Linked DNA regions of Homo sapiens. The protein of the gene in region 1 purifies or fractionates together with the protein of each later gene. This does not show direct contact. Each region holds a gene or a part of one and is shown on either strand. Other genes may lie near its edges.

The links.
Region 2: the proteins of GNE (region 1) and RAB3GAP2 fractionate together in Homo sapiens (co-fractionation; one large-scale study listed by BioGRID). This does not show direct contact.

The regions. Positions count from the first base shown.
Region 1 is NC_000009.12:36,216,934-36,220,514, reverse strand, and holds part of GNE (bifunctional UDP-N-acetylglucosamine 2-epimerase/N-acetylmannosamine kinase), read left to right. Parts: intron 1-494; coding exon 495-677; intron 678-2,215; coding exon 2,216-2,332; intron 2,333-2,914; coding exon 2,915-3,150; 3' UTR 3,151-3,581. UniProt on the Homo sapiens protein: Bifunctional enzyme that possesses both UDP-N-acetylglucosamine 2-epimerase and N-acetylmannosamine kinase activities, and serves as the initiator of the biosynthetic pathway leading to the production of N-acetylneuraminic acid (NeuAc), a critical precursor in the synthesis of sialic acids.
Region 2 is NC_000001.11:220,147,579-220,150,566, reverse strand, and holds the end of RAB3GAP2 (rab3 GTPase-activating protein non-catalytic subunit), read left to right. Parts: 3' UTR 1-2,274; downstream 2,275-2,988. Other genes in the region: IARS2 (isoleucine--tRNA ligase, mitochondrial precursor), read right to left, coding at 2,932-2,988. UniProt on the Homo sapiens protein: Regulatory subunit of the Rab3 GTPase-activating (Rab3GAP) complex composed of RAB3GAP1 and RAB3GAP2, which has GTPase-activating protein (GAP) activity towards various Rab3 subfamily members (RAB3A, RAB3B, RAB3C and RAB3D), RAB5A and RAB43, and guanine nucleotide exchange factor (GEF) activity towards RAB18.

The DNA.
Region 1 (3,581 bases):
CAAAGGGGGCTGAACTCCACTAGCACCTCCTAAGAAGCCTGCAGAACAGCATCCAGAATTGTCCTGTGGATCTGCCGGCTCCTGCCTTGCCTCGGTTGCAGGTTGCCCCTGGGTGCTGTGCCTGCGTGGCTGAGTAGGCTCTTGCTTCAGTGTTAGAGAAAGCCTTGGTGCAGAAAGATGGACAGTGTGTGCTGGGCCAGGGGGTCTGCTACCCACAAGGTGGGCATGCATTTTTGCTGCACTGTCCCCACAGCTGTGTTTGAAATCACAGTGACCCAAGCAGATGGGTCACAGGGCATCAGAGGATCTGCTAAAAACATTTCCATCCAAAATGCTGCCAGAGAATGCTTTGATGCCTAGTGGGCTTCAGCTGTCTAAAGAAGTATCTATAGACCCTCACATGCCAAAGCTCTGCTAAATAGATGAGGCGTTGTGATATCATAGTTTTCTGTTTCAGGTAAAGCACCCTCAGTGATTTCTATCCCTCGCTGTAGGAATCGGTGGTGGAATTATCCATCAGCATGAATTGATCCACGGAAGCTCCTTCTGTGCTGCAGAACTGGGCCACCTTGTTGTGTCTCTGGATGGGCCTGATTGTTCCTGTGGAAGCCATGGGTGCATTGAAGCATACGCCTCTGGAATGGCCTTGCAGAGGGAGGCAAAAAAGCTCCATGATGGTTGGTGTCCCTCTCTCGAGGAATTAAGTAACCAAATAGTAGACAAGTACTTCAAAGTGGAAATTCCAAAGACAGCTGAACACTGAAGCCAGAAGTTTCCCCCTTTTCACTTCTTAGGGAAAGAGCAGGGCTCCCTCGCACTAAAACTGCACAGTCTTCTTGGCTGACCCATATTGCCACTCTTCCTCCCCAGGGGTGGTGGTGGACAGAGGTCTAGAGTTCCAAGACAGCAGGGAAGATTTCCTTCAGTTTTGTTTTCTCAGCCAGTATCACAGGGAGGGTACTTAATACACATTTTAATGAAGAAATAAATGGACAAAACATGTTATGTATATATCACACATACATGCACTGTATGTGTAGTATATCTGTGCTTCATACATAAAAACAGTGTAGATTTTTGGCCCCCAAAACCAATTTGTGAGCATATGCTGAAGGAAAAGAGATGGGGAGTGGAGGCCGAGAGTGCAGGAGAGAAGTGTATAGAGCCCTACAGTAGGGTTCTGAAGAGGTGGGAAGAGATGAGCTGCAAAGCCAGGCAGAGGGTCCACGAGAGGGCATGGCGAGCCGAGATGATGGGTGTATGGGACAGGAAGCAAAAAGGTAGGGGATCACTGCCTGGTGGTGCCCCCTATGAGAGAGGTAAGAAGTATGCTCGTCTGTTGGCAGTGGGGGTAGAAGGACTGGGAAGGTGGTGAAGGTATAGAAAAGCGCAGTCAGAGAGAATGGGTGAGAGCTGTGAGGGCCCAGGGGAGACAGGAGACCACCAGTTGATGTCTAGGTTGCAGTTTGCACAGCTGGGGATTTTTCTCCTTCAGGGTCCAGATATTCTAGCAGATTAGTAGGAGGCAGATTGATCTGAGTTGGTGACGGGCAGAAGACAAGGACTACAGATAACCACAGAAATACCTGCTGCTTACTGAGCATTTACTGTGGCCAGCACTTAACTAAATACTTTATGTCCATGATCTCATTCCGTTCCTCAAATAACCCTGCCAGGGGAGGCACTACTGGTCTCATCTTCTAGGAAGGAGGAATGTGTACAGGTGAGGTGACAGGCATGGGGTCATGCAGCTGGGAGTGGCAGAGCTGGCACTGACCCCAGGCCTGTGTCTGTTCCTCAGCCACTGTGCCTCGCTGCCATAGAACGCGTGGCGCTGGCAGATGGCACAGCATTGTGTCTGGGATGAGTAAGGAAGGAGTGAATGTGGGAGGAGGGTGATAATTTGGAGAAAAGAACACTTCAAAGACTGTCTGCTACTGGAAGTGAGAAGTGAGGGAGCCAGAGGGGTAGGAGGCTGTCGTCAGACTTGAGGTTTTTCCAGGAAGATAGGTTCTGGGTTATGTACAACCAATTAGCAAGAGGGTAGCAAAGGCTTTAGGGGCAGTGTATAGAGATGTTTGTGAACGATAAGCTTTGCAATTGTGAAAAGAAAACACCGTCTTCCCATGTAGGGGCTTGCTTTCCACAGGCCCAGTGGTGAGCTTGGCCTCCCCACAGCTCATTAGTGACTGCTTTTCCTTCTCACTCTGTTCAGAGGACCTGCTCTTGGTGGAAGGGATGTCAGTGCCAAAAGATGAGGCTGTGGGTGCGCTCCATCTCATCCAAGCTGCGAAACTTGGCAATGCGAAGGCCCAGAGCATCCTAAGAACAGGTGAGCATGTGGCTGCAGGTGGCTGTGCTGCAGGGGGTGGCCTCAGATATCATATGGCCCAGCCCGGCCCCAGAAGAGACCCTGCTTCCCTAGGGACAGGTGCTTTGCAGTGTCTGTTCAGAGGTTTCTTTCCTAATTACTCAGAGGTAAAAAGGGAATTGGATTCAAGGTATTTGGCAGCATTGCCTTTTTCAGCAGGTGGTTGGTTTGGTTTGACAACTATAAAAATGCTCCTTTCATTTTACAGGAAATTTAGAGAAATATAGGACAGTTGTAAGAAAAAATATCACTTAGTTTTCCCATTTGGAGGTATCAACTATTAACATTTCCTTCGAGTCTTTCTATTCATTTTTTTGCCTAGTGGAGATCATGTGGTACACCCGGCTTTTTCCACTTGAGGCTGTCACATGATCATTTTCTCATATTAAGAATCAACCGTGAACTGCTTTTAAAACACTGCCTCCCACTGCATGCCGTGGATGTTCTTTAACATTTCTGCTGCTGGCTCTTTTCTGCCTTCCTCTTTGGTATTTTGATTTTGGCTTCTCTCAGAAACTCATTTTAATTTTTGTCTCCCTATAGCTGGAACAGCTTTGGGTCTTGGGGTTGTGAACATCCTCCATACCATGAATCCCTCCCTTGTGATCCTCTCCGGAGTCCTGGCCAGTCACTATATCCACATTGTCAAAGACGTCATTCGCCAGCAGGCCTTGTCCTCCGTGCAGGACGTGGATGTGGTGGTTTCGGATTTGGTTGACCCCGCCCTGCTGGGTGCTGCCAGCATGGTTCTGGACTACACAACACGCAGGATCTACTAGACCTCCAGGAACAGACATGGACCTTCTCTCCAGAGCTCCTGAGTGGAATCAAGTTCTTGTCTTTAGGATGACCGTTTCTTAACAATCAAATCTGGTATTGAACTGCAGGTGACTTTGGCAGAGAAATGTTTTCACTTTTGGTCTCCTCTTCCAGAGTCACCTTTCCCCACTCCTATTTTTGTAGATGCTATTCTTTCTGATGTCTTCTTACTAGGGGTCATTTTAGCTCAAACCCTGTAAGTTACAGTCACAATTTTCTGTGCCAAAGCAGCTACAATAATAGAGAGGAAGCCTTCTTAGAACTCTGCTTACTAATGTATTAATACCACTGAGACCTTCAGGCCTTGCCTGGGATATCACTTCATCCTGAAGTTTGCATTAATAATCCTTCCAGGCCGGGCACAGTGGCTCACGCCTGTAATCCCAGCACT
Region 2 (2,988 bases), on another chromosome or scaffold:
ATTATAATGTAAGTTAAGATTTGCTTTTTGCCAAGTTGCAAAGTTGTATCCACATCAGGTCACTGTAAAAATGTATTATCTTGTAAAACTTATGTAAAAAAAAAAAAAAAAAAAAGGCAAAGATACTAAAAATTTTAAGTCCGACTTTATTTTTCCTACAAGTGTTTAGAAATGCTTCTGGGATTTGCTAATATTATCTGTCCTTGGGAACAGTATTGAAAAAACTGCTTAGTGGTATTACAGCTTTAGCAAACCTACCTCACAGCTGGGATGAGAGGATAAAATACAACTAATTTTGTACCCTATAGTGCCTAGAGCAGTCCAAGTGCTAAATAAATATTTACTGATTAAAACCAAACTATAGCTACTCGGGAGGCTGGAGGAGGATCGCTTGAGCCCAGGAGTTTGAGGCCATTCTGGGCAATATAGCAAGACCCTGTCTCGAAAAAAAAAAAAAAAAGAAAAAACCAAACTAACCAAAACTCTGTAAAAGAGTGCTTTGAGCTCTACAAATACCAAGTATTTATTGTGGTATATTTTTAGAATGTAGCCATACAGTGTAATTATGGGTATCTGTCATGGATCACAATTATTATTCATAGTAAGTCATTGTGATACAGAAGTTTGTTTCTTCACTTCCCCTTAAGAAGCCAACTATAGTAATCATGCAAAGTTGAGGAGTATGTCCTTCAGGGATATAAAAAGAAAAACAAATCTGTTTTTTGAGCTAAAAGAGCACATCCAAACAAGAATTTAACTGGCTAAAATTTAGTAATTACTGTTAAGTAACTATCAAACTTGAAATCTTACAAGATAAATGGTTAAGATGTCTTGAGTATTTGGGATGGGGGCCTGTGAGTCTGATTGAGACATACATTTTACAGAGTAGCAGCACTGGAAAGGGCTAGTCCAACCTCCCAGCCTCTGCTTGGGTCTCCGCTGCCCCAGCCACACACATCCTAGAATTCTTGTAAACATATCTGGCTCTGTGTTAACAGTCACTTGTTATATGTTTTCTAAGAGATTAGTTCTTCCTGTGATTTTTCCAAGTACGCTGAAAGTAGTAGTATGAACTTAAGGAGGCTAGTCAAAGAAACTTGGAGTTATAGGTATTTTTAAAGAATAAATCCTCAATTCCATCATCACTTGGCGGGGAGGGGGCACTTATTAAGCATTTTAGATAATAAAACTGGTTAAGCTTACTCTGGTAGAACAGACAATCAAATCTGGGGATTGCTGAGAACAATAATAAGCTGAAGTATGGCTCACAGAATCCTAACACAAATCATTAAGTCTCTAGTTAGATTTGTTATCCTAAAATTTTTCATAGAATTTTAAAATCTAATTCTGACTTGTATGGTTAAGAAAAGCAGTTAAATATTTTACTACTTATCAAGGGCTTTTAAAATAAATAAATCTGATTGATAGGAAGAAAGGCAAATAAATACCTATGTAGACATTCTATAATAACAAAGAGCCATAGATGATAAAGGAATTAGATTTTAATGTAGAATGGGTGGTTTCTGAAACAAAGGTATGTGGTACTTTGTAGTTATTGATGAGAAGCCAGTAACCAGTAGTGTTTTCCTAGATATATGCCCACCCTCACACAACTTTCTTCATTAACAAACATTAAATATGCATTTGTATCTTATTAAATTATATTGTATAATGCTGAAGGAAAACAAAAAGTGTTCAAATAATCATAACTTCTACATTACAGGTTCTGTTTAGATGCAGAACTAGAGGGGCCAGGGTAAATGTAGATAAAGAGATATATAGCACCATGCTTCTTAATGCTTCATACTTTTGCAAACAGAAAAAAAAAGTTTTACTTTTATTATAAAACTTCATCTATGGTCAAAGTAAACACTGTTACATTTAAATTGCTTTTTAAAAACAATTGCGATCTAAAAAGTCAAAAATCTGAAATTTAATAATATGAGACTTACACTGAATATAATGTTCATTTAGAAGTTGCTGTGGTCCACTTCATTTATAAGGAACAAATATTTTTACAGTACACTATAGCAACAGCAAAAGCCCTCTCTCACCCTGATAGGAATGGGTTTGCTGGGTGTCTAGAAGTTAGATTCCTGCTGAATAGAATTAGCCATCCTTAAAAGATTTTAATCCAATACTGAACTGTTTATAAAATGCTTTCTCTATTGTAATGTACTGTAAGTAGTGAAATTCTGTATATACTGCTATTTTCTGTCTGTTCATTGTTGTGAACTTCTTATGTATATTAGTGAAATAAATTTTCAGCTTTCATGTTGTTTCCTAAACATTCATAAGTATAACTAACTATTAAGAGATTTCTTCCTTTCTTGAGTAACAAATTTGGTGATTATATTCTTTCTGATCCAACCCCAAAAACTAGCTATTCTGAAAAGGCTGATGTTCACTAATGGGAAGAATGAAATGACCCTTCACCTCTTAAGGGAAACAGGCCTCCGCCATTCCCTTTCAAAACTATACTTCTTTTACTTGATACTCAAAACTTCTGCACCAAAATCAGTCAGTATTTTTCCAGAATGCCTTTATTTTCAGTATCATAGAATTTAAATACAGAGTCAAAAGATGATTTATAAAATATAAAACATTTTCTGCTTGGCCGTATTTGAAGACAAGCTGAATACATATCTATGTTCTGAATAAGTCCACTATGGATATATATAGGAAGAGATATACATATATCCATCCACAGATACACACACACATATATATTTCTGCATGTATATATACATAATTCTTTCTATAGTTACAGGAAATACTTCTTCTATAATTCTGATTTTGACTCCCATCCTCCACCATTTACTCATCCACTCATTACCTAAATCTTGGCTTTCTTTCCTATATTGTAAATAATCCATCCAAACTTCTAGCCAGTACTGTCAGGAGGGTTCTTGCTCGAGTGAGCTGTTAATACTATTTTCCACTGACAACTTCTGCACATCGAGGACACAGTGTATCTGAAGACTCCGC